Linked DNA regions of Homo sapiens: all the other regions are linked to region 2. A link means that fine-mapping ties the variant in region 2 to the plasma level of a protein whose gene starts in the linked region. Region 2 holds a variant in brackets. A gene starts in each other region. All regions are shown on their reverse strands.

The links. A credible set is the group of variants that fine-mapping cannot tell apart. PIP is the chance, under the fine-mapping model, that this variant and not a neighbour inherited with it causes the effect. The UK Biobank Pharma Proteomics Project read protein levels with antibody pairs (Olink). The fine-mapping took linkage between variants from a reference panel, not from the people measured, so its PIPs are less certain.
Region 1: CXCL9 starts here. The variant in region 2 is the best candidate, but not a certain one, in a credible set for the plasma level of the CXCL9 protein (UK Biobank, PIP 0.70).
Region 3: PDCD1 starts here. The variant in region 2 is the best candidate, but not a certain one, in a credible set for the plasma level of the PDCD1 protein (UK Biobank, PIP 0.52).
Region 4: it holds the start of CCL19, and the variant in region 2 is the best candidate, but not a certain one, in a credible set for the plasma level of the CCL19 protein (UK Biobank, PIP 0.64).

The regions. Positions count from the first base shown.
Region 1 is chr4:76,004,762-76,009,761 of GRCh38, reverse strand. CXCL9 (C-X-C motif chemokine ligand 9) reads left to right here and starts at 2,253. Exons shown (of 4, transcript NM_002416.3): 1 at 2,253-2,376; 2 at 3,488-3,614; 3 at 4,869-4,953. The coding sequence starts at 2,313. It overlaps SDAD1-AS1 (SDAD1 antisense RNA 1), which reads right to left. Exons shown (of 3, transcript NR_125906.1): 3 at 3,820-4,689.
Region 2 is chr1:113,830,881-113,838,976 of GRCh38, reverse strand. It overlaps PTPN22 (protein tyrosine phosphatase non-receptor type 22), which reads left to right. Exons shown (of 21, transcript NM_015967.8): 12 at 357-433; 13 at 570-1,387; 14 at 3,984-4,067; 15 at 4,538-4,668; 16 at 5,839-5,866. All of the region lies in intron 3 of AP4B1-AS1 (AP4B1 antisense RNA 1), which reads right to left. Among named protein-coding and RNA genes, the nearest start is that of AP4B1-AS1, 22 kb to the right of the region's middle. The variant T/C (reference allele first, on the strand shown) is at 4,031.
Region 3 is chr2:241,856,790-241,862,973 of GRCh38, reverse strand. PDCD1 (programmed cell death 1) reads left to right here and starts at 4,080. Exons shown (of 5, transcript NM_005018.3): 1 at 4,080-4,211. The coding sequence starts at 4,136. LOC124908032 (a long non-coding RNA gene) reads right to left here and starts at 3,902. Exons shown (of 2, transcript XR_007088436.1): 1 at 2,897-3,902; 2 at 1-77. RefSeq lists an enhancer at 3,912-4,874.
Region 4 is chr9:34,687,335-34,695,430 of GRCh38, reverse strand. It overlaps CCL19 (C-C motif chemokine ligand 19), which reads left to right and starts at 4,155. Exons shown (of 4, transcript NM_006274.3): 1 at 4,155-4,340; 2 at 5,089-5,221; 3 at 5,408-5,501; 4 at 5,592-5,861. The coding sequence starts at 4,292. The coding sequence ends at 5,612. It also overlaps a transcript of PHF24 not described here.

The DNA.
Region 1 (5,000 bases), not on the chromosome of region 2:
ATGACTAGTGGCCTACCAAGGTTCAACCCTACCCAACAAAATCTTATTTCTTAGCATTTGATTTCTCTCTTCAGGAAGAAATTAAATTTAGTTTTCAGTTCATTTTATTTTTTCTCAGAGCAAGGTGAAATGTGGGGGGGTGTGTGTGTGTGTGTGGGTGCACATGCGCGCACACACGCATGCAGTGCTGAGTCCATAATGAAAAAAAACGTTGAGAAACATTGTTTTACAATAAGGAAATCTCCAATCTTTAGCTAGTCAACCAAAATAAAGATGACGTTTCTTAACTTCCCCTACAACTAGGTGTAGCCATGTGATTAAGGCCTGCCTCCATGGGAGGTGATAGAAAATGATGGGTGCAACTTCTAGGATGTCTAAAAAGGAGGGACATGCCCTTTTTCTGCCTTCTCATCATCCTATACCTGGAAATTGGACATGGTGGCAAGCCACCTTTGGCCATGTGCATGAGGGCAGCAATCTAGAGATGGTGACAACACAAGAAAGGAGAAGCCTGGAAGACCTCATGGGAAAGAGCCACTATCCAAGTGCTAATCCACCTACATCTCTCAGGGAGAAATAAGCTTCTATCTTAGCCACTGTTTTCTGTTGTTGTTTTTTTTTTTTTTATTTTTCCATAAGTTATTGGGGTACAGGTGGTATTTGGTTACACGAATAAGTTCTTTAGTGGTGATTTGTGAGATTTCGGTTCACCCATCACCCAAGCAGTATACACTGCACCCTATTTGTAGTCTTTTATCCCTCACCCCGCTCCCACTCTTCTCCACAAGTCCCCAAACTCCATTGTATCATTCTTATGCCTTTGTGTCCTCATAGCTTAGCTCCCACATACCAGTGAGAACAGATGATGATTGGTTTTCCATTCCTGAGTTACTTCACTTAGAATAATAGTCTCCAATCTCATCCAGGTCACTGCTAATGCCGTTAATTCATTCCTTTTTGTGACTGAGTAGTATTCGATTGTGTATATATAAACCACAGTTTCTTTATTCACTCATTGATTGATGGGCATTTGGGTTGGTTCCATGATTTTGCAATTGTGAATTGTGCTGCTATAAACATGCATGTGCAAGTACATTTTTCAAATAATGACTTCTTTTCCTCTGGGTAGATACCCAGTAGTGGGATTGCTGGATAAAATGGTAATTCTGCTTTTTAGTTCTTTAAGGAATCTCCACACTGTTTTCCATAGCGGCTGTGCTAGTTTACATTCCCACCAGCAGTGTAGAAGTGTTCCCTGATCACCAAGTCCACACCAACATCTGCTGTTTTTTGATTTTTTGATTATGGCCATTCTTGCAGGTGTAAGGTGGTATCACACCGTGGTTTTGATTTGCATTTCCCTGATCATTAGTGATGAGCATTTTTTCATATGTTTGTTGGCTATTCGTGTATCTTCTTTTGAGAATTGTATATTGATGTCCTTAGCCCACTTTTTAATGGGATTGTTTGTTTTTTACTTAATGATTTGTTTGAATTCATTCTAGATTCTGGATATTAGTCCTTTGTCAGGTATATAGATTGTGAAGATTTTCTCCCACTCTGTGGGTTGTCTGTTTACTCTGCTGACTGTTCCTTTTGCTGTGCAAAAGCTCTTTAATTAGGTCCCAGCTATTTATCTTCATTTTTATTGCATTTCTTAGCCACTGTTAATTTGGGTCTCTTACATGCAACTGACCCCTTATTCTAACCAATTTATTAGTTTAAAAAATAATACTGTAGCAGGAATGATACAGAATGAGCTTACCACTAGTAGAAAATGACCTGGTCCCAGAGGAAATTAAGGTGCTTTAAGTTGTTAAGTGGGCAATATAAGAAAATATCAATGTAGCCATCTATTATACAGAAGAATATGCCATAAATAGTAAGGGAATTTGAAAAGTATATTATTTATCTGGACTTTAATATTTCCCATCTGGAAACCACATCTCCAACCTTTGTTGTATAACATTAGTATATTCATTATATAACCTATTCTTCACACAGGTGAGCAACTGTGAATGTGCCAAAGGCTATCAGTGTTGCTAGTTTCACATCCCTTACTATAAACCACCCATTTATGTGAAATGGAAATAAAAACATGCAGAAATTCCCTTGGATCTGAGACTAGGGTTTCCCCCAGCACAATCAAGTTTGTGGTCAATTTAGTTAGCTCAGCTAAAGATACTAGCCAATCAGAGTTTAGGAGAGAAATGAATATCCTAAATAAATATGATCCCCAAAATGTGTTCTCTAAAGAATTTCTCAGGCTCAAAATCCAATACAGGAGTGACTTGGAACTCCATTCTATCACTATGAAGAAAAGTGGTGTTCTTTTCCTCTTGGGCATCATCTTGCTGGTTCTGATTGGAGTGCAAGGTAAGGGGTTCTGAGTTAGGTTGTAAAGTAAGAGAAGTGATTCACTGTAAAAGAATCTTGATTAGCCAGATAAAGGTGAATGTTCTGCCTGCATTGAAGAGTAATATTTGGTCAGTCATAAAAGCTTCTCAGTGACATGACCAGTTATCCAAAGTTCATAACTTCGATCTGCCAAGTCAAACACAAGTCTTTGTAGTCTAGGTGTATGAATTCCTAGTAAGTGTTCAATAAATGTTCATTGAACTGGGTAATAATGAGAACTCTATCTCCTAAATTATTTTCTTCTCCCTGATACTGTTTTTTGCTAAGTATATCTGTGGCTAACCAATTAAGGATCCAACCAATAATCAGAGAATTTGTCCCTAATCTATTTACTAACTATCTTTGTTACCTTGGACAAATTACTTAATCTTTCTAGACCTCAGTTTCCTCATCATCTGTAAAATAGAACTTTGTAGTTATACCTTTTCTGACTGCTACACAATGTATGGCATATGGTACAATAAGTACCAAGTAAATATATGAATTTAAGAATTAAGATAATGTATTTTAAGGGGTTTTCAAAAATTTAAAACACTATTGAAAAGCAAGGCAGTGGGGAGGAGAGAGGATGAGGATGAAAGTGGTGATTGGTTACAAAGGAGTGCTTTCTATTCAACACCAACACCAGTTCCATTCCTTAAGGTCAGATAATAAATAATAGATGGTTTAGGAGTTGCTTAAGAAACTGTGATCAGCATAGCATACATGAATTAGTTATCTGTTTGTCTTGTGATAGGCATTTATTAAATATTGTGAAAGTCTCTTTTTCTCCCACGGACTTACGGTGTGGTAGTTAAGAGCAACGCCTTTGGACTCAGAGAGATCTGGGCTAAAACCCTGCCCCTGCTCCCTAAAAGCTGTATGACTTTGTTCTTAATCTTTCTGAACCTTAGTTTCCTTATGTATAAAATAGAGATGATACCTCCTTCAAAGGTTTGTGGTGATTATTTTTAGGCACTCGGTAAATGATAGCAATAATCATGACTCAGTCAAGTGTATCATTTTGATAGATCACCTAAACTGAAACATTGGCCTATACTGATGTGTTCTATCTTTTTCTTTCCCTCAGGAACCCCAGTAGTGAGAAAGGGTCGCTGTTCCTGCATCAGCACCAACCAAGGGACTATCCACCTACAATCCTTGAAAGACCTTAAACAATTTGCCCCAAGCCCTTCCTGCGAGAAAATTGAAATCATGTAAGTAACAACCCAGCTAACATGCATGCACCATATTGGCAAGAACATTAAATTTAGCATGAGTTTTACCCTTGGAGTGCTTGCCCATACAAACACTTAAAAATCAGATGGTTACCCCCTCCATAAATTTGGGCAGCTCCTTTCTTTTCTTCTCCTTAAAAATGCAAGGAATTTCTGGTAGATTAGGCCCCAAGAATGACACATGTTTATTGTACAAAATGTTTAATGCAGGTAACACAATAGAAGAAAATAAAAATCACGCATAATTCTACCCTTGAGTGACAAATACTGTTAACCCCTTAGTATACAGTTTTCTAAATCTTCCTTACTTGCTTCGTGTGCACATAACATAGATATGTTTTTACATACACGTATATAAGCACAAAAATTAAATCATATACTATACACTGTTTTGTAATCTGCTTTTTCATTAACACTATATCATGAACATTTTCTCGTGTCAGTAAATCTCTAATAATGTCATTTTTACTTAATGTCATTTTTAATGGCCAAACTGTATTTCATCATATGGATAAACCATAATTTATATGACCAGGATTATTGTTGGAAATATAGATTATTTCCAAATTTTTACTGCTGAAATAAAACTTACTGTGGCAGTATTGTGTCTGTAATTCTTTCCTTTCTAGAGATTAGGATTGCTAGGTTGAAGGATGTGTGCATATTTTGTCTTTATAAGTCATCCTTGACTACTCTTATTCTCAGACTATACAGAAAAATTAAAGGAACATTTAAATTATTTCCAGACAGTCTACTGTAAGTAATTTTTAAAATTTAACCAGGGCCGGGTGCAGTGGCTCACACCTGTAATCCCAGCACTTTGGGAGGCTGAGGTGGGCAGATCATGAGGTCAAGAGATTGAGACCATCCTGGCCAATGTGGTAAAACCCTGTCTCTACTAAAAATACAAAAATTAGCTGGGCGTGGTGGCGCATGCCTGTAGTCCCAGCTATTCGGGAGGCTGAGGCAGGAGAATCGCTTGAATCCAGGAGTTGGAAGTTGCAGCAAGCTGAGATCGCACCACTGTACTCCAGCCTGGCAACAGAGCGAAATTCTGTCTCAAAAAAAGAAAAAAAAAAAAATTCAACCAGTGACTCATCTTGTCCTAGGAAATAATTTTAAGTAGTTTCATTAGAAAATTCAGCACAATTCATACTGATTTTCATTATTTCTGAGAAGAAGCATTTAAATTATTAATGAGAAAAAACTATCTCATTGCTATTTCTTTGGCAGTGCTACACTGAAGAATGGAGTTCAAACATGTCTAAACCCAGATTCAGCAGATGTGAAGGAACTGATTAAAAAGTGGGAGAAACAGGTTGGTGAAAAGGAAGATCAAAATTTTCTTTCTTTTAGAAATTAACT
Region 2 (8,096 bases):
AGAGACCTAATAAGTACCTGTAAAGGGCTGAGATGCTGAAATTTCTAAAGGCAGAGTGTTTTTGAGACTAAAGTTACCCACCAAAGAACATTTTTAAAACTCCCACATTTGAAAAGATGATGATATACACAAATCCTTTCTAGTTTCTATAATACTATTAATCCTTTATTCTGGCCATCTCAGTATATGAACGAGTTCTTGCTGAGTTCAATATTTTGGAAGCTAATCTAACTCTTTCATGAATTATTTTAAATCTTTTTATTTCCTGAAAAATTACTTTTCAGCCTTCTAAATATTAAAATATCTTATTGACATTGCTTCACTGAAAACCAGCCTCTGACTTATTTCTTTTAAAGAGTCAAGCAAAGCATTGTATTCCTGAGAAAAATCACACTCTCCAAGCAGACTCTTATTCTCCTAATTTACCAAAAAGGTGAGTACAATTTTATATATCTAAATGTTGACTAATTGTGTCTGGGAGATGAATCTCATGCTTATACATCATTGTGATGCTAGGAAGCGGCCTGTTTGGGGTATGGTGTCATCATTACGCTTTCTTTTTGTTTTAGTACCACAAAAGCAGCAAAAATGATGAACCAACAAAGGACAAAAATGGAAATCAAAGAATCTTCTTCCTTTGACTTTAGGACTTCTGAAATAAGTGCAAAAGAAGAGCTAGTTTTGCACCCTGCTAAATCAAGCACTTCTTTTGACTTTCTGGAGCTAAATTACAGTTTTGACAAAAATGCTGACACAACCATGAAATGGCAGACAAAGGCATTTCCAATAGTTGGGGAGCCTCTTCAGAAGCATCAAAGTTTGGATTTGGGCTCTCTTTTGTTTGAGGGATGTTCTAATTCTAAACCTGTAAATGCAGCAGGAAGATATTTTAATTCAAAGGTGCCAATAACACGGACCAAATCAACTCCTTTTGAATTGATACAGCAGAGAGAAACCAAGGAGGTGGACAGCAAGGAAAACTTTTCTTATTTGGAATCTCAACCACATGATTCTTGTTTTGTAGAGATGCAGGCTCAAAAAGTAATGCATGTTTCTTCAGCAGAACTGAATTATTCACTGCCATATGACTCTAAACACCAAATACGTAATGCCTCTAATGTAAAGCACCATGACTCTAGTGCTCTTGGTGTATATTCTTACATACCTTTAGTGGAAAATCCTTATTTTTCATCATGGCCTCCAAGTGGTACCAGTTCTAAGATGTCTCTTGATTTACCTGAGAAGCAAGATGGAACTGTTTTTCCTTCTTCTCTGTTGCCAACATCCTCTACATCCCTCTTCTCTTATTACAATTCACATGATTCTTTATCACTGAATTCTCCAACCAATATTTCCTCACTATTGAACCAGGAGTCAGCTGTACTAGGTAAGTTATTTTTTAAAGTTTGCATAGAATTTTAGATTTCATTTTGTTTCTATAGAATAGTTGGTTTCTTCTCCTCTTCCCTCTTCTCCTCTGCTTCTTCTCTTTCTTTCTTTTTTCTCTTTTTTTTCTTTTTTTTTTTTGAGATGGAGTCTCGCTCTGTCACCCAGGCTGGAGTGCAGTGGTGCAATCTTGGCTCAATGCAACTTCCGCCTCCAGAGTTCAAGCAATTCTCCTGCCTCAGCCTCCTGAGTAGCTGGGATTACAGGCGCGCGCCACCACGCCCGGCTAATTTTTGTATTTTTAGCAGAGATGGAGTTTCACCATGTTGGCCAGGATGGTCTTGATCTCTTGACTTCGTGATCTGCCTGCCTCGGCCTCCCAAAGTGCTGAGATTACAGGCATGAGCCACCACGCCTAGCCTGCTTCCTTCTCTTTCTTCTTCCTGCTACTCCTCAAATAAATACATTCCAGGAGTGTTTTAATGCTGTAATAAGTTGAAAATAGCAACATCAAACATAATATTCCATGAAACAGGCAACAATGGAGGCAATCAAGATCTGGTACAGGATCTGTACCAGCAGGAGTGCTTCTAAAGAAGGCACGCCTCATTTCTAGAAATGTATATCAAAGGCTCACAATATACTGTTTTTTAAAAATATTTTTTGAAACAGAATCTCACTATGTTGCCCATGCTGGAGTGCAGTGGTGTGGACATTGCTCATTGCAGCCTTGATGTCCTGGGCTCAACCAATCCTCCCACCTCAGCCTCCCAAGTAGCTGGGACCACAGGGACACGCCACCATGCCTGGCTAATTTTTTTTTTTTTTAGAAATGGGGTCTTGCTATGTTGCCCAGCCTGGTCTTGAAAATCTGGCCTCAAGCAATCCTCCCACCTTGGCCTCCCAAAGTGCTGGGATTACAGGTGCAAGCCACCACACCTAGCTTCAGAATTTACTCTTAACATATAGAAGCAGCTTCCAAAGGAAGAGCAGAAAAAAATTTGATCAATAGCACCCAGATTTTTTGTTGCACAATTATGTGGCTAAAATGAGTTGAACATATTGCTAAAAATTGAATTATCTTCCTGCAGGATTTGGAAGGGGAGAACCTGATTTCTTGCTCTTTTGTAGTAATCTCGTAGATGACAATACATGTTTAGTATTTTGTGTAAAAATTTTATCATATGTATACCTTTACTTTCATGTTTTGTCTCTTTTATAATTCTGTATTTTTGCATATAATGCATATTGTTCTGTTTTACTGATTAGTTTGAAAGTAGAAATGAGCACCCTGTTAGAGATGATGACAATAATTTGATGTGGAAGATGATGAGGGAAAGCAATGAACAAGTTTAACTCCCTTAGGTATATCATCAAATAATTTGTAAAGCACATTCTACATAGATAGGAGGTGGAGAAAACTTTTGCTCTATAACATTATTTATTGTAGAGTTTCTTAATAAATAGTTGTGTAGATCATTTGTAGCTTTGTTGCAAAAATATCTTATCTGGATCTAAGATGTTCCTTCTGTGATTAGATTATTTTATACATTTTTAAACATTTAAATGTATTTTCTTTTCTTATACCTTAAACTTCTCTGAGCATCTGCATCATTAAAAAACAGAGCGAGACTCCGTCTCAAAAAAAAATTAATTAATAAAAACATACCCTTATTTTCAGGGATTGTAACAATATCGTCATGTGCCATCTGGTGGCAGTTTCTTGTAATACCATTTAAAATGTTTAATAAAAACTGAATGTTTGTATAGAAATACAGAAGACTATCCTATACTGTTGTTTTGTAAAATGGAAAAATACCCATATTCTTGAATTTTGTATAGAATGAAGAGATACTGAAATCTTTATGATTTTACCTAATGTATAACTGAACCTTTTACACGTCAAAGCACTTTATAATGTTTTATTATATAGTCTATGTAAAACAAAAGGAGTTATGTAAAAGTTAATTCAAAGCTTCCAAAATTAATATAATATTTTATGTTAACTGATACACCGTGACTCAATCAAAATGTTTTTGAGCTTTTATTTATTTATTATTATTATTATTTTTTGAGACGGAGTGTCCTGCTGCCACCCAGGCTGGAATGCAGTGGTGCAATCTCGGCTCACTGCAAGCTCTGCCTTCCGGGTTCACGCCATTCTCCCACCTCAGCCTCCCGAGTAGCTGGGACTACAGGGGCCCGCCACCACGCCCGGCTAATGTTTTGTGTTTTTAGTAGAGACACGGTTTCACCACGTTAGCCAGGATGGTTTCGATCTCCTGACCTTGTGATCTGCCCGCCTCGGCCTCCGAAAGTGCTGGGATTACAGGCGTGAGCCACCGCGCCCAGCCCTACTTTTGAGCTTTTAAAACAATAAATGTTAAAGAATAAGCAAAAACCTCCTGGGTTTGTACCTTAAGAGAATTTATTTTGCTTTTTCCTTGAATGAACAAGTGTCAACTTTACTGATAATGTTGCTTCAACGGAATTTAAATATAAATTATGGTAAATTTATATTTAATATTAGAATATAAGAATTTCCTTTGGATTGTTCTAATTAACAATTGTTACAATATTTTTGACATTTTGGATAGCAACTGCTCCAAGGATAGATGATGAAATCCCCCCTCCACTTCCTGTA[T/C]GGACACCTGAATCATTTATTGTGGTTGAGGAAGCTGGTGAGTACAGTTCAGTAAGTATAAAATAAAGTGTGGGATGGGCATGGTGGCTCATGCCTTTAATTCCAGCACTTTGGGAAGCTGATGTGTGAGCCTTGAGTTTGAGGAGTTCATTGAGGCCAGGAGTTCAAGACTAGCCTGCGCAACATAGTGAGACCTCATCTCTAATTTTTTTTTTTTAATTTAGCAGAGCAATAGCAGCATGCATGTGTAGTCCCAACTATTTGGATGGTGGAGGTGAGAGGATCACTTGAGCCCAGGAGTTGGGGGCTGCAGTAAGCCATGATTGTGCCACTGCACTCCAGTCTGGGTGACAGAGCAAGACCCTGTCTCAAAAAATAAAATGAAGTGTGAATTAACTAGATTACTTCTCAGGTCCTTTCAATGTTTTATGTATTATTTGCTGAGCAACATTTGATGTCTAAAAGAATACTATTCTTAAGAACCGAACTATATTCACTTTCTTCCAGGAGAATTCTCACCAAATGTTCCCAAATCCTTATCCTCAGCTGTGAAGGTAAAAATTGGAACATCACTGGAATGGGGTGGAACATCTGAACCAAAGAAATTTGATGACTCTGTGATACTTAGACCAAGCAAGGTCAATAATTTTTTAATGACTCTACTCATTTAGATTCAATAGACTACAGTTCTACTCCTTGTATTTTTAACACCCATCATTCAATAAATCCTAAGCACATACTAAATATAGAACAATGTGCTAGAGGATGTTGGGATAAAAAGGATGTATAAGACACAATTCTTGCCTGTAAGAAGCTTCTTGTCTAGTAGTAGAGATATAGGATGTGTACAAATCTTTATTTTTGCCTATATTTATTATAACAAAGCAAATGTGATCAATGTCATATGAAAGATAAAGAATTTCAAGTGTAGGAGATGCCTCCAGGTTGGAAGTGATCAAGGAAGATTTAGTGAAAGAGGAAACATTTGAGCTGATTCTTGAAGGATAGTTAAGGCAAAAATAAATGTTTCATACTTAAGTAGGAAGCTTGTTCACTGTAGTCATTTGGTAGGCTATATCATGTTTGCTGTGATAATATGTTATAGAGAATGACAGGTGTGCATATTACTTAAGATAAACCTTTTGGAATAGTGTGGTTGATGGTAAAGTCAGAGATGGGGGTGGGAGGGGTTTGTGGATTAAATAGAAAATAATTATTGAAAGTAGGTGTGTCCTGCTTCTGGAGGAAAAATAGAAGTGTATCTAAAAATGTTATGCATTTCTGTATAGTCTGTGAACCAATTCTCTTAAAATTTGAGAGATCAGAAAAATAATTAAACATTTTAAAGTACCTACAATTGCAATGCTGATAGGCAAATATTCTCTGCCTTTTAAATTATAATTCTAATGTACTAGTAATTATTATTGTCATTAATAATAGGCACATATATTTACTTTAACAACTCCCAGAGGAAAGAACAGTCACTCTTCCAATGTTATGAAGTAACTTCAATTTCCGCAACTTACCTCTAATTAAATTTTCAGGGAAATGTTTCAGGTGGGACAGAAATAAGTCAGAAGGGGATCAATTTAGGACTAATTGCCATGGGATATAAAAATCAGTGTAAGAGTGAAAGATGCCATTTCATAATTCAGCACACTTACAAATTAGGAAAAATAGGGTCTACATTTCATAATTATCTCTACAGCTATATTACATATAAGTTCAAAAATGCCATTTTTTGCTTTGAGTTTGTATAATTTGTATACATATTCTTCTTTCACTTTTCCTTTCTTTTTTTCTTTTAGAGTGTAAAACTCCGAAGTCCTAAATCAGGTAAAAATTTCTCTTGGCTTTAGATGACATTTAGCCCTAAGATTGGAAGAATGGTTCGTTAAGTTTAGAGTAATTCACTTCAGGAAGTTACTTGGTTCCCATAATAGCTTCCAGTATTCATTGATTTATTTCTGGCTTTCCCAGACTAGAAATTTTGTAAAGAGCAAGGTGAAGACAGGATTTTAGAATTCTGCTCCTTAATATATAACCTCTCTGAAATAATATATAAAAACTATTTCAGAGAGAATCTTTTAAAACTTTGCAGCTTTTCCACTATAGAGATTTTCCCACTGTTAACAGTGTGATTCAAAAAATTATTTCTGGCCACTTAATTCTTTAATTTGCTGTTGCCTCTCCAGTACTTGTCTGAGCTTTGCCTGTTTCATGCATTGAAGAACAAAAACTAACATTTATTGGGCACTTCCAGGTACTTTGTTTACATTATCACAAGTGGTAGTTGCCCTTAACATATTTATTCATACTGTCATATTATTCAAATACATATACAGATAATATAAAGGTTAAAAAACATGGGCTTTGCCAGGAATTTGAGGCTGCAGTGAGCTATAATGGCACCACTGCACCCAGCCTGTATGACAGAGCAAGATGCTGTCTCTAAAAAACATGACAACAGGCCAGGCGCAGTGGCTCACACCTGTAATCCCAGCACTTTGGGAGGCCAAAGCTGGCGGATCACGAGGTCAAGAGATCGAGACCATCCTGGCCAACATGGTGAAACCCTGTCTCTACTAAAAATTAGCTGGGCGTGGTGGCGGGTGCCTGTAGTCCCAGCTACTGGGGAGGCTGAGGCAGGAGAATCGCTTGAACCTGGGAGGTGGAGGTTGCAGTGAGCTGAGATTGCGCCACTGCACACCAGCCTGGGTGACAGAGCGAGACTCCATCTCAAAAACAAAACAAAACATGACAACAAAAACAAGGGCTTTAGAGTCAGATAGGCTTTAAGTCAAATCCCTGGTCTATGAAGAATTATCAACATGCATAAACTTGGTTAAATTACATACTTTCTCCTTCTATTTTTCTCATTTATAAAAGAATAGAATCCCTTAGATAATTTTTATGAGGATTAAATACAATAATGTCGTAAAGCTTTTAGCGTAGTACTTGTCAAATAAGTCCTCATTAAATATTATCGATTATAATTTTTATTAATCATTAAATAAGCATTTTACTAAGCAACTTCTGTGCACCTTACACAGGGTTAGAATAGGCAGGATGTATGAGAAAGAGTACTACTTAATGCTTATATTCAAATAGAGTAGATAAAATTAATACTCACGTGGAACCACTAAGTGATAATCTGTGTGGCACTGACTGTAATCACCAGGAGTCTGGGAAAACAGGATGGCATTACTGGAGTGGTTAGGAAAGGTTTCGCTGAGTGGAAGAAAGAACTTTAAATAATTTGTATAGACAGAGAGAAAAAAGGAGGGAATTCCAGCAGCAGGGATCAGCCTACCAATGACTCAAAGGTAGAAATGAGCATGATGTGTATGGAGAAATGGTGAGTAGGCTATTTTTTTTTTGCAATAGATATTCTAGTTTGTGAAATACAGAAAATAAATTTGGGTAAATAAGATGTGGGGCAAGATTCTGAAGGACTTAAAAAAGCTAGTCACATGAAATATCCAGAATAGACAGATCCATAAAGATAGAAGCAGATTAGTGATTGCCAGGGGCTGGGGGAAAGAGGAAAATAAGGAGTGATGACTTAATGGGTGCAGAGTTTCCTTCTAGGGTGATAAAAAGTATTCTGGAACTAAATTGTGGTGATGGTTGTACAATACTGTGAATGTGCTAAATGTCACTAATGGCAAATCTTATGTGTATTTTACTACCCAAAGTTAGGCAGAGGAATTTACACCCAAAGTTAGGCAGAGGAATTTAGATTTAATGTAGTAAGTAACAGGCATTATGGGTTCTTTGTTAGGGGAGTATTAAGATGAAATGGAATTTTAGGGAAATAATTACTAGAATACTGTTAACGAACAACTTTAGTTTTCAGAATATTCCCTAACAGCAAACTGGAAGATGATGAACTACTTCAGAGTAGTTATTAAGTATTTATTAAATGCCTACTGTATGCCAGTTATTTTATTAGGTGCTAGAAATAAGTACTACACTTGTGTGTATTACCTAGCATGTAAGAAATAAGACAATTTATTGATAAGACAAATTCTAAGGACTAAACAAACCCAATGACCAATGACAT
Region 3 (6,184 bases), not on the chromosome of region 2:
CTGTGGTTTTCCAAACTGTTATCATTCAGAGAGACTGAGCAGAGTGTATGAGGAAACATCTGTGTAATTTCTTACAACTGCAAGTAAATCTACAATTATCTCAATTGTAAATGATACAATACTCAACCAAAACATACAACCATCAGCCAGGTGTGGTGGCTCACGCCTGTAATCCCAACTCTTTGGGAGTCCAAGGTGGGAGAATTGCTGGAGGCCCGGAGTTTGAGACCAGCCTGGGTAACATAAAGAGACCTCCTCTGCCCCCACCCCAAATTCTACAAAAAAAAAAAATGTTAGATATGAGCTGGCCACGGGGTGCACGCCTGTGGTCCCAGCTACTCAGGAGGCTGAGGTCGGAGGATCGCTTGAGCCCAGGAGGTCGAGGCTGCAGTGAGCCAAGATCACACCACTGCACTCCAGCCTGGGTGCAGAGCAAGACCCTGTCTCTAAAAGAAAATAAACAGACAAAAACCACATACAACTTTGCTTGTTGTAAATTATCTTTTAACTGAATGCCCTGGATTGAATCTGGCTGCTGCCATCCCAGGGCCAGTGATTTGGATGGGGTATGACCCTCTGTGAGGAAGGAGCAGGCGGTGGGGGAAGGGCCTGGGTGTCCAGGTTCCCTGGGAAGGAAGGCTGAGAAAAGGAGATGGGGGAGGGGTGCGCAGGGCCGGCCAGCCAAGGGCCCCTTAGCCCCATCTACCCTGCTCCCCGGACTCCGCCTGCCTTTCCTCCTCGTGACAGAAGACAGTGGAAGCCTACTGGGTGGAAGGCACGGGCTTAGGATGTGTGTGGGAGGAAAGTGTGTGTGCTGGGGAGCATGTATGTTTGGGAGTTGTGTGTGTTGGAAATCGTGTGTTGGGGATTGTGTGTATATTGCAGATTTTGTATGTGTGTTGGGGATTGTGGTGTGTGGGTGTTGTAGATTGCGTGTTGGGGATTGTGTTGGGGATTGTGTATGTGTTGGGGGTTGTGTGTGTGTTGGGGATTGTGTGTGGGGGAGATTGTGTGTGTGTGCTGGGGATTGGGTGTGTTGGGGATTGTGTGTGTGTTGAGGATTGTGTGTGGGGGAGATTCTGTGTGTGTGCTGGGGATTGGGTGTGTTGGGGATTGTGTGTGTATTGGGAATTGTGTGTGTGTTGAGGATTGTGTGTGTTGGGGATTTGTGTGTGTGTTGGGGATTCTGTGCATGTTGGGAGTTGTGTGTGAGTTGGGGACAATGTGTACAGAGGATTGTGTGTTGGAAATTTTGTGTGTGCGTTGGGAATTTTGTGTATGTGTTGTGGATTGCGTGTACGTTGGGGATTGTGCATGTTGGGAATTTTGTGTGTGTGTTGAGAATTGTGTGTGAGGGAATTGTGTGTGTTTGAGATTGTGTGTGTATTGGGAATTGTGTGTGTGTTGAGGATTGTGTGTGTTCTGAGGATTGTATGTGTTGGGAATTTTGTGTGTGTGTTGAGGATTGTGTGTGTTGGGGATTCTACGTATGTTGAAAGTTGTGTGTGTGTTGGGATTGTGTGTGTGTTGTGGATTGTGTGTGTTGGGAATTGTGTGTGTGTGTTGAGGATTGTGTGCAGGGGGATTGTGTGTGTTGGAGATTGTATGTGTTGGGAATTTTGTGTGTGTGTTGGGGACTGTGTATGTTTTGGGGATTGTGTGTGTTGGGAATTTTGTGTGTGTGTTGAGGATTGTGTGTGGGGGGATTGTGTGTGTTGGAGATTGTGTGTGTGTTGGGGACTGTGTGTGTGTTGGGGACTGTGTGTGTTGGGGTGTGGTGTGTTGGAAATCGTGTGTTGGGGACACCGTATGTGTTTGGGGGAGGGTGTCAATAAGTGGTCTGGAGTGTGATATTGGGGTGCAGGCTCCATGAGTCCCCACCCCACACCTGAGCCCTGGGACCGCCTATCTGCTTCGGGGTGGGGTCCCAGGACCCTGTAGGTTCAGCCTACTAGTCCAGGCCCAATGCCCAATGCCTGCATCCCTGCAGGCCCTGTGCTCTCCAGGCTCAGACCCCTCGCAGCCCTGCAGACCCTCCCTGGGTCCATGTGTCTCTTTGCAGGTGCTCCAGCGAGTAGCAATGTGGAGAGACCATCAGGCAGCCCTGGCCTCAGTGGCCGCAGTCCCCTGGCTCCACGCTGGGCCCACCCCACCAGGTCTCCTCTCCCATGGCCCAGGGGCCTTCAGTGGGACTGAGAGGAGGAGGGAAGGAGAGTGGGTGACAGGGAAGAACTGCAGGGAGAGAGGAGAGGGGTGGGAGAAGGAGAAGGAAGGAAGGGGTAGGATGGAAGCTGGGTTTCTCCCTGTGCCCGCCCCCTACTCCAGGACATGTGTCCAAGCCCTGGCAGGTGGAATTTTGGGGGCAGGGCCTTGGTGGTGAGGAGACCTTCCAGGGGTCTGATAGCATCTCCCATCTCAGAGCCCACCTCCTGGGCCCAGCCTCCCCTCCAGCCCACACAGTGGCATTCCCAGTCCTCAGAGGACAGCTTCGTCCCACAAAGCTCAGAGCCTTGAGGAAGGCCCACTGCTGCCCTGGAACAGAGACAGCATTCAACAGAGGTTGGAACAAGGCTCTACAGGGCTGGGGGCAGAGGGAGGTTCTGTCCAGAATCTGCCTTCAGGACAAGTACAGCCAGCAGGGGCAGCTTAGCCACTTATCCACTGCCTGGGCGAGGCACAGGGCTATGGAGGCACCTACCAACCAACAGTTCTCCAGCCCCAGAGCCCCAGCCCCTGAGGCACAAGGGTGGGTGTGCCAGGAGACAGTTGCTGCGGGCCACCTTAGCTGTCTGGCAGCACAGTGGGTGCTGCCAGGCTCCCTGGGGGCCCCCCGCCAAGCCCACCTGGCCAGCTGGGCCCCCCCCACCTCCCCACCAAGCCACCCACACAGCCTCACATCTCTGAGACCCGGGAGTGGCCCTTTGTTCATAAACGAGAGCTTCCTCGCCGTGGCCGCGCCTCGCAGACATCATCTTTGATGCTCTTTTTCCACTGTTTCGGTGCTTTAATGTTTTCCCTTCAGAGCCGGGCCGAGTGTCTCTCGGAGCCAGGCAGCCGCGCCAGCTGTCAGGCGGTTTCTAGCCTCGCTTCGGTTATTTTAAGCTGATGAGCCTGACGCATCTCATCACTAATATCAGCAGTTTCATTTCTCCTGTTTTCCATTCGCTGTAATAAAATGCTCAGCACAGAATACAAGGAGATAAGCAAGCCATTTCACAAACGCCGGGCCGCCAGCCAGGCCCAGGCACTGGACCCCCTGAACCACCCCACCCTGGCACGAGTGGGCTGGAGGGCAGGGCCCCGGGGAAGAAGGTCAAGGCTGGAAGGGGAGGTCAGCCTCACAGCCAGCCCCTGCCACCGCCCCAGCCCCCCCGTCAGGCTGTTGCAGGCATCACACGGTGGAAAGATCTGGAACTGTGGCCATGGTGTGAGGCCATCCACAAGGTGGAAGCTTTGAGGGGGAGCCGATTAGCCATGGACAGTTGTCATTCAGTAGGGTCACCTGTGCCCCAGCGAAGGGGGATGGGCCGGGAAGGCAGAGGCCAGGCACCTGCCCCCAGCAGGGGCAGAGGCTGTGGGCAGCCGGGAGGCTCCCAGAGGCTCCGACAGAATGGGAGTGGGGTTGAGCCCACCCCTCACTGCAGCCCAGGAACCTGAGCCCAGAGGGGGCCACCCACCTTCCCCAGGCAGGGAGGCCCGGCCCCCAGGGAGATGGGGGGGATGGGGGAGGAGAAGGGCCTGCCCCCACCCGGCAGCCTCAGGAGGGGCAGCTCGGGCGGGATATGGAAAGAGGCCACAGCAGTGAGCAGAGACACAGAGGAGGAAGGGGCCCTGAGCTGGGGAGACCCCCACGGGGTAGGGCGTGGGGGCCACGGGCCCACCTCCTCCCCATCTCCTCTGTCTCCCTGTCTCTGTCTCTCTCTCCCTCCCCCACCCTCTCCCCAGTCCTACCCCCTCCTCACCCCTCCTCCCCCAGCACTGCCTCTGTCACTCTCGCCCACGTGGATGTGGAGGAAGAGGGGGCGGGAGCAAGGGGCGGGCACCCTCCCTTCAACCTGACCTGGGACAGTTTCCCTTCCGCTCACCTCCGCCTGAGCAGTGGAGAAGGCGGCACTCTGGTGGGGCTGCTCCAGGCATGCAGATCCCACAGGCGCCCTGGCCAGTCGTCTGGGCGGTGCTACAACTGGGCTGGCGGCCAGGATGGTTCTTAGGTAGGTGGGGTCGGCGGTCAGGTGTCCCAGAGCCAGGGGTCTGGAGGGACCTTCCACCCTCAGTCCCTGGCAGGTCGGGGGGTGCTGAGGCGGGCCTGGCCCTGGCAGCCCAGGGGTCCCGGAGCGAGGGGTCTGGAGGGACCTTTCACTCTCAGTCCCTGGCAGGTCGGGGGGTGCTGTGGCAGGCCCAGCCTTGGCCCCCAGCTCTGCCCCTTACCCTGAGCTGTGTGGCTTTGGGCAGCTCGAACTCCTGGGTTCCTCTCTGGGCCCCAACTCCTCCCCTGGCCCAAGTCCCCTCTTTGCTCCTGGGCAGGCAGGACCTCTGTCCCCTCTCAGCCGGTCCTTGGGGCTGCGTGTTTCTGTAGAATGACGGGTCAGGCTGGCCAGAACCCCAAACCTTGGCCGTGGGGAGTCTGCGTGGCGGCTCTGCCTTGCCCAGGCATCCTTGGTCCTCACTCGAGTTTTCCTAAGGATGGGATGAGCCCCATGTGGGACTAACCTTGGCTTTACGACGTCAAAGTTTAGATGAGCTGGTGATATTTTTCTCATTATATCCAAAGTGTACCTGTTCGAGTGAGGACAGTTCTTCTGTCTCCAGGATCCCTCCTGGGTGGGGATTGTGCCCGCCTGGGTCTCTGCCCAGATTCCAGGGCTCTCCCCGAGCCCTGTTCAGACCATCCGTGGGGGAGGCCTTGGCCTCACTCTCCCGGATCGAGGAGAGAGGGAGCCTCTTCCTGGGCTGCCCGTGACCCTGGGCCCTCTGTGTACACTGTGACCACAGCCCGCTCCTGGACCCTCTGTGCCCGGCTGGCCCTCTGTGCCCAGCCAGCCTGCACCTGGGGATGCCAAGGCCTGGGGAGGGTGGTTTCACCCAGGCCAAGCCTAAGACAGTCCCTCTGGGCCCTGCTGGGTACCGGGGTGTGACACCACTGGGAGGACAAGATGAGGGGCACCCCTGGGGCCGCCCTGACACCCCCTCGAGGCTCCTGCCCCGGGGGTCCTGGTGCCCCTTCACTGTGGCAGGCGACTGGGGGTTCCCCACCTCGGCCCCTCTCCCGGGGCCTGCTCCCCGGCACCTGAGGCAGCATCCTTGTCAGGGCCGTGCCTTCCTGCCTCAGCGCCACCTCTTAAGGTTGGCCCGTGGGTCACTCAGGACTCAGAACTGGAGATTCTGGGCAAAAGGCAAAGAGCAAAGGGCCAAAAGGCATCCCAGGGAGACGACTGCGGGGGAACCAGAGGGCAGAGGGGCGCTCGTCACAGGGGAGGGGGAGCTGAGCGAGGCAGGAGGGGAGCCGAGCCTCTCCCCCCGTGTCCCGGCTCTTCAGGCACGCCCTCGGGACGCCACCCTCCCCGACCCAGGCGGGAAAGATAAGAGCAAGGTGTCCGCAGCCTGACACTCGTGCCTCAGGTGCCCGCGCTTGTGCCGGACAAGACTCTCACAGGTGGCATGCCTCGGTTTCCCCACTGGTAACAGCACAGGGCACTCAGCAAGGCGCAGTGGGCATGACTGGGGTCCTGTGGGTCCTGACCCAGATGTGGCCACCCCGGCCGCAGTGGTCTTCATTCCAGGATGCCTCTTTTCCCTCCTGATCTATTCACTGCGTTCGCCATTCGGTCATTCCCGGGGCCACCACTCCCACCTCAGGTGTGTGCTTCCCTTGTGTTTTATGAGATATCCCCAACCCGGCTGCTTATTGGCCCCGTCCGAGGGCAGGAGCATAAATAAGAGCCTCTGCTTTGGCGTGGGACCACTGTGAGCTCCAGTCAGCGCTGCCACTGCTGAGCTCTGGGCCTTCGACAGGACTTGGCCCCTTACTGACTTCTCCGTGTGCTTTGGGTCATGGGTGAGGACGCCTCCTGGCAAGGCTGCGTCCTGAGGATTAAATCGGGTCATCTGTGAAAACTACCCAGCCCAGCCCCTGACACTTTTTTGTTTGTTTCTTTTAGTGACAGGGTCTTGCTCTGTCACCCAG
Region 4 (8,096 bases), not on the chromosome of region 2:
TTTATTATAAAGGATATTACAAAGAACAGATAAACAGCCAGATGAAAGGGATGCATAGAGTGAGGTATGGGGAAAAAAAGGTGTGGAGCTTTCATGCCCTCTCTGGGCACCCTCCTCCAGAACCTCCATGTTTTCAGCTATCCAGAAGCCCCCACCCCAACTTAGTCCTTTCGGGTTTTTAATGGAAGTATCAGTACCTAGGTATAATTGATTACATCATCAGCCATTGGTTTATCAACTCAAGTTTCAACCCCTCTTCCCCTACCCAGAGGTGGGGAGTGGGTGGGACTCCCCACCACTACAGAATGTTAGAGAATGTTCCAACTCTCTAACCATGTGGCTGGTTCTTCTGCTGACTAGCTCCCATCCAGAGGCTGTCTAGAGGCCCCCAGCCACCAGTTATCTCATTAGCATACAAAAGACACAATCTCTCCCAAGATTCCAAGGATTTTAGGAGCTATATGTCAGAAAAGGAAGATGAAGACCAGATATATATTTCACAATATCACATACACTCAAAAAAAATTTAACTGGAAAGATTTTAATAAAGGGACAATTTAAGAGATTAGGTCAGGATTAAGGAACTAACATGGGATGATAGGCAGTTGGGGTCTAGCAATGGTGAGAAACCATTATCATACAAAGGCTTGAAGGGGCAAGAGGAGGGAACAGTGTTTCCAAAGCCTGTCATCCCAGCACTTTGGGAGGCCGAGGCGGGTGGATCACCTGAGGTCAGGAATTTGAGACCAGACTGGCCAACATGGTGAAATCTCATCTGTATTAAAAGTACAAAAATTAGGCCGGGCATGGTGGCTCACGCCTGTAATCCCTGCACTTTGGGAGGCCAAAGCAGGTGGATCACCTGAGGTCAGGAGTTCAAGACCAGCCTGGCCAACATGATGAAACCCCATCTCTACTAAAAATACAAAAAACTTAGCTGGGTGTGGTGGCGGGTCCCTGTAATCCCAGCTACTCAGGAGGCTGAGGCAGCAGAATCGCTTGAACCCAGGAGGCGGAGGTTGCAGTGAGCTGAGATTGTGCCATTGCACTCCAGCCTGGGTGACAAGGGTGAAACTCCATCTCAAAAAAAAAAATTAGCCAAGCGTGGTGGTGCGTGCCTCTAATCCCAGCTACTCGGGTGGCTGAGGCAAGAGAATTACTTGAACATAGGAGGCAGAGGCTGCAGTTAGCTGAGACTGTGCCACTGCACTAGAGCCTGGGTGACATATTGAGACTCTGTATCAAAAAAAAAAAAAAAAAAAAAAAAAAAAGAATAGAGATAGACCCGTGGAAGGGAGGCAACCCAAAAGGATCACTGTAGATCAGTGGGCCTCAATCTGTAGACCACTTTGGGAGGCCAAGGTGAGCCTTGGGATTCTCCTGCCTCAGCCTCCTGAGTAGCTGAGTAGTCAGGAGTTGAGATGGGGTTTCACCATGTTGGCCAGGCTTGTCTCAAACTCCTGTTCTGGATAAACAAAACTTAGGAAGTTCATTAATAGTACATCTGCCCATAAGAAAAGCTAAAGGGAGAAAGAAAAAACAAAAAACAAACAAAGAAATGCTAAAGGGAGACCTTCAGAATGAAACAAAAGGACAAAAAGTAATAACTTACAGCCACACAAAGAAACAAAGATCTCTGATAAACATAACAACATAGCAGGCCAGGCGTAATGAACTTCTTGGATATGTATATACATACTTTTCATCAGATTTCAGATGTTTTGTCATTATTTCTTCAATTTTTTTAATGCCCTGTTCTCTCTATTCTCCTCCTGAGACTCCTGTGATGAGGTATATTTGATGGTATCCCTGAGGCTCGTTTGGATCTCAAACTTTAGCACATATCAGAGTCACTTGGAGGGTATGTGAAAATGCAGTTTGCTGGACCCCATCCTCAGAGTCTCAGATGTGGTAAGTGGGAAGTAAAATCTAAGAATTCGTGTTTCTAACAAGCTCCCAAGTGATGCTGCTGCTGCTGCCCAAAGGCTACTCTTTGAGAACAACTGCCACAGGGGAAATTATTCACTGCCAGAACTGCAGCAAGATGAAGGATTTGGGGAATTAATACCCCTCTCTCCTTCCACCACTGATCAGTTGCTGCTTCCCATGGGCCAGCCCCAAACAGAAGCCAGAAAGCAGGTGACCCTAAGTAATGCTATCTGCAGAGGTCAGCCTTCCAGGGAGCAGAGCAGGGCCGTGAAGAGTGGAGAATGGATAGGCTGGGGCAAACAGAATAACCAGAACCATCATGGACAGAAGAATGGATAGATCAATGGAAAGAGGGGTGGATGGATGAATTAATGAACAGATACCTGAATAAAAGGATAGAAGGCCAGGCACGGTGGCTCACGCCTGTAATCCCAACACTTTGGGAAGCGGAGGCAAGCAGATCATTTGAAGTCAGGAGTTCGAAACCAGGAGTTCGAAACCAGCCTAGCCAACAAGGTGAAACCTCACCTCTACTAAAAATACCAAATTTAGCCGGGCATGATGGTGGGTGCCTGTAATCCCAGCTACTCAGGAGGCTGAGGCAGGAGAATCCCTTGAGCCCAGGAGGTGGAGGTTGCTCTGAGCCAAGATCGTGCCATTGTACTCCAGCCTGGGTGACAGAGTGAGACTCTGTCTCAAAAAAAAAAAAAAAAAAAGGACAAAAGAAGAACAATGGCTAACAGAGCTTATTGTGCGTCAGCCTCTAAGCTAAGGGCTTTACTCAGGGTTCCTCACTTAATCCTAAGAAGTAGATCTTCTACCATTCCCATTTTACAAATAAGGACACTAAGACACAGAAACTGGAGAATTTTCACCTTGTCGCAGTTAGTAAGTGGTGGAATCTGAATCCCAAGCTAGGCGCTCTGTCTGCAGAGTCTCCCTCCTCTGCACCGTGACTACCCGTGCTGTGCCATGACCAAGTGGCAGACAGGCGGTGTGGAGTGGAGGTAAAGACTGCAAACCCTAGAGCACACCTGGGTCCAAATCATGCTCCAGTACTTACTAGCTGTGTGGCTTTGTGCTCTGAGCCTCATGTTCCTTATGTGTAAAATAAGAATAATAATGTGAAAATAAGAAAAACTACATCAATGGTATTGTTTTGGGAAAGTTAAGCAAGGTAATAGTGGTAAAGTCCTTGACATAGAGCCTAGCACATAGTAAACAATCAAAAATACCATTACTATTATTATGATTAATGAATGGAAAGAAGCTAAGTCAGAAATTTAAGAGGGAAATGTTCCCCCTCCCTCTCTCCATCCAAAAGAGGGTCTAGGGTTTGGGTGACGACGGGTGACTGGGCGTTTCACATTTAGTTTCTCTTTCAAGGCCTTCTCTTCTGACCTTTCTCATAAGGATGGGAAGTCACTTGTCCCCTCCCCCATCGGCCGATTCCTTGAAATTTTAAGATTTGTCTGAATATGAGCTGGCCAGCCCCTCTCCTTAGAAATCCCCTCTTGGTTCCCAGGACTGAGAAAAGGGGGAAAATGAAGGGGGCTATTCCAAGCCAGTCTCCCTCCAGCTGTTCCTTTGACCCAGGTGTTGGACATAGGAAAACAGTAAATAGAGGAAGGGGAGGGTTTGCTGAGCCCCAGAGGCCTGAGATGTGGGATGGGGGTCCTGGGCCTCCTCCCAAGGTACCTGGCCTTTCAGCTCTGCTTGCCCCAAGGGAAGGACTGGTTCCCACATAGTGGGCAGGCACAGTGATGACCTTGGAGGCCACCCCAGGATCTCATGGTTGTCCTGAGGGTGCCAGGGAGCCTTCTTCACCACCAGCCCAAGAAAGAAGCACCAGTGAGGACAAGGGATAAACCTAAGGAAGGGAGCACAGTTCCTCACTGTGGGCCCCACCTTTGACCATCACTTCTGAACCCCAGCTTCATGGTTGATGATGCAAATGCCATCAATGGGATGACAGGGCAATCCCTCTCTCTGGAGAAACAGTGCACAGCCCCCTTTACTGGGCCAGACTGCAGACTTAAGTTCTCAGAGCAGGAGCCAAGGAAAGCAGAAGGAAAGGGCAACCGCAGGGGGAAGAAGGGGGGCAGGGTGCGATTCTGCCAGAAAGAGGGGGGCAACAGGGGAATCACAGAATGGGACATGAAGGGGAATTTCAGGCAGAGAAAGTGAAGCTCTGGCCATAAATAGGAGTCAGCTGCAGGGCTCACATTCCCAGCCTCACATCACTCACACCTTGCATTTCACCCCTGCATCCCAGTCGCCCTGCAGCCTCACACAGATCCTGCACACACCCAGACAGCTGGCGCTCACACATTCACCGTTGGCCTGCCTCTGTTCACCCTCCATGGCCCTGCTACTGGCCCTCAGCCTGCTGGTTCTCTGGACTTCCCCAGGTAAGGCTGAAGGGAGAGTCAGGGTCAGAGGCAGTGGGGGGCTGGCAGTGGGTAATGTCTAGATCTCAGATTGCTTGGCACTGGACGTAAGGGACATGGTGAGTTCAGGCAAATGCTTAGGTCTGTATATTTCGGTGAGCCTGGCAGGTCCCTGCATGTGTGCCTGTAAGTGTGGGTGTCCCTGTGCCCCTGAATCCCAATGCGGGTGTGTCTTTTAGCACATCCTGGGGCCTATGGCTGTGACTGTCTCTGCAAGCTCTATTTCCTGCTGCCTCCGTTTCCCAGGCAGAAGGAGATTTGCTTAAGGTAGGGAGAATGGCAGACACTAAGCCAAGGCTGATATTCAAAAATTTTAGCAATTAATAAGGCTCCTAACACCAGCCTACCCTACCCCACGCCCCTCCCACACTGTGACCTGCATTAACTCTTTACTTGCTGGATTGTCCTGGGAGAGAGGTTGGGGTGATCAGGGCAGCAGGAAGTCATTTGTGGGGCTCAGGGCAGTGGTTATTTACAAAACAGTTTAGAAGTATGACAATATATTTAGCAACCAGTAGAGCCAGAGCCATATTGGTGCATAATGGCTGAATACCAGGTCTAACTCCTCCCCGACCCCACCAGACACACACACACACACACACACACACACACACACACACACACACAGGTGTCCTCAATCCGAGCTAGGGCCATGGCCATGCCACCCTCAAGGGTCCCTGTGTCCTGTCACCTTCTTTCCCCATCCCAGCCCCAACTCTGAGTGGCACCAATGATGCTGAAGACTGCTGCCTGTCTGTGACCCAGAAACCCATCCCTGGGTACATCGTGAGGAACTTCCACTACCTTCTCATCAAGGATGGCTGCAGGGTGCCTGCTGTAGTGTGAGTTGTGGGGAGGGTGTCTAGCCTCATCTCCCGTTTTAGCCCCTGTTGAGACTCCCACCTTCTTATTCCCCTTCTCCATGCCAAGCCCAACCCCTTCAAGGAAATCCCTGAAACAGGTTCCCAGACATGGTCCCCAGGCATGCTGGATTCTGGGGCTCCATTCTCTCCGGCCTCTCACCCCAGGTTCACCACACTGAGGGGCCGCCAGCTCTGTGCACCCCCAGACCAGCCCTGGGTAGAACGCATCATCCAGAGACTGCAGAGGACCTCAGCCAAGGCAAGCCTGGCCCTCCCTGGCCCTGTCTCCTCCCTCTGAGCTCCTGTCTAAGATTCCAGCCCATGATCCTTCCTCTCCTTCCTCCTCTAGATGAAGCGCCGCAGCAGTTAACCTATGACCGTGCAGAGGGAGCCCGGAGTCCGAGTCAAGCATTGTGAATTATTACCTAACCTGGGGAACCGAGGACCAGAAGGAAGGACCAGGCTTCCAGCTCCTCTGCACCAGACCTGACCAGCCAGGACAGGGCCTGGGGTGTGTGTGAGTGTGAGTGTGAGCGAGAGGGTGAGTGTGGTCAGAGTAAAGCTGCTCCACCCCCAGATTGCAATGCTACCAATAAAGCCGCCTGGTGTTTACAACTAATTGATCACAACCTGTTACAGATTTCTTTGTTCTTTCTCCACTCCTACTGCTTAACTAGCCTTAAAAAAAAAAAAAAAGGCACCTGGCACCCATAGATCTGTCTGCTGTCCGTTTGCTGTCTAGCCAGGTGGACAGGAATAGGAAGGGGGAGGTGGAATGGCAGGATCTATTTTCTCTTCTGTGGCCTAGGGGGTCTCCTTGCTCACCTCCACTTAACAACCTGATGCTCTCAGGATCAGCCTCATTGCTTTCCATAGTTCAGCGACACTAAGCTTGGGTCAGTTCCCTGAATGAGCCAGCGTCTCATGCCTCCCACTCTTTGCTCTCCAAGGCAGGTGTTCAAGCATCCAGGTGTCTAAGGAATCCAGTGTCACTGGGGGGAAGGGAGTTGTGGGGAACCAGCTCTCACGGCTGGGGGAGGTGGAGTGGGGCAAAGGGCCCAGCTCTACTGCCTGGGGGAAAATACCCATCCACCCATGCCCTTCCCTTGGTCTGGCACACTCTTCTCTCTCCTCTGCCCACCTGGCTTCCCATCTGGGTCCAGACGCCTCTTCCTCCAGGAAGCCTTCCCTGACCCCAGGCTGGGTTAGGTAGCCTCCTGCAGTGGCCCCTCACAGCATTCATCACCCTGACTTATAGTTGCTGGTTTGTCCAAATTTGTCCATGTTCTTGGACTGGGATCACATCTATTTTGGGTTCCACTGTTTTTGTGGTGTCCAGCATGCTGCTTGGCACAAGGCAGTCCCTCAATAAATATTTGTTTAGAGAATGAATAAATATGTGAGGAAAGGCTCAGCAGCCAGGGCTGAGGGTCCATCTGTTCATTCTGTCCATACAGAATCTGACCTCCAGGCCAGCCTTCCTCTCTCAGCCAAACTGAGCAAGGTCCAGCCCCATCTTTGCAATCCTGGGGCCATGCCTCTCAGGGACACCGACAGACAGACCTGGGAGTCAGAGGTCAGAGACAGGAGAGAGGCCCACGGGGTGGAAGAAGGAGTAGCCAGGGAAGCACAGGAGATTCCACATAGAGGAGCCCTACCACCACCCCTACAGTCTACATGGGCTCCAGGGCTCAAAGGCAACACTGAGACCAGAGACATCTCCCCAGATGAGACCAGAAAGGAATCTCAGCTCTGGGAGATGAGAGCCGTGTGACTCTTGGAGCATCCCACAGGGCTTCTCTGTACAGAGTGAGTGCCTCGTACTTGAGAAGTCTCCTGGGGAAGCAGGCTAGCCTCCAGACAGTGTTCTCTAAGGGCCTCTCCAGCTGGGAGTGACAAGGCTGTGCCACTGGGGTCAGATGACAGCAAGGAGGCCAGATTGAGCACCCTTGCTTGGGAAGAGAGGTGTCATTATATCGGGTATACGTCAGCCAGCAACAAAACCAGGCCTGGGCAGGCCTTGAAAAGGGAGAAATGGTGAGGGAGTTGTGAAAGCCCCTCCTCACTGAGAGCATGACATCCTCTTCCTCTCCTCTGCTCCCAGATGCAGGTGCTCAAAACCTTGGGTATCCCAGGTCTCAGAATCACCTGGAATACCAGGTGGGTGGGAGGGATAGGGATAGTTTTCAAGAAAAGCTGCAATAACCCATCCATTCATGCATCCATGCATCCATTCATTCAGCTGTTTCTGCATTCATCAGACCTCCATCCAGCCAACTGTCCACTCACGCACTTCCCACCCAGCCATTCTTTCATCCATCCACCAAGCCAGCCAGCCATGGCGTTCTAGGTCTCCCAGCTGTGGACCCCGTGCCCCGCATCCCAGCAGGCTGGTGTCTCAGAGGACAAACACACATGGGAGGGGAGCACATTGCCTGAAATCCTTCTCAGTGCCAGTGACATTTAGAGGAAGTCAGCCTGCCACAGAAGCAACAAAAGTGATCTTTCTGGACTATCGGAGGAACACACAGACGGAGCAGGGCAGGTGAGAGTGGGAACCTTGAAGAAGATGCTACCAGGATAGGGGCCCCTGGACGCTACCTCCATGACACTGCCGCCAGGAGGTACAGAGCAAATCCTGAATTCACTGCCTGGGCCAGAGTCCCATGATCCTGTCTCTGCCCCACTCATTGTGTGACTCTGGGCAAGTTCCTTTTCCACTCTGCACCCGGAGATCCAGTTTCCCCATTTGTCAGATGGGAGAGAGGAGCTTGATTTTTGAGACTCCTTCCAAACAAAGACTTGGCTCCTGAATCTTTGGTTCTCATGCTAAACCGCCAGCATTTGCATAGAC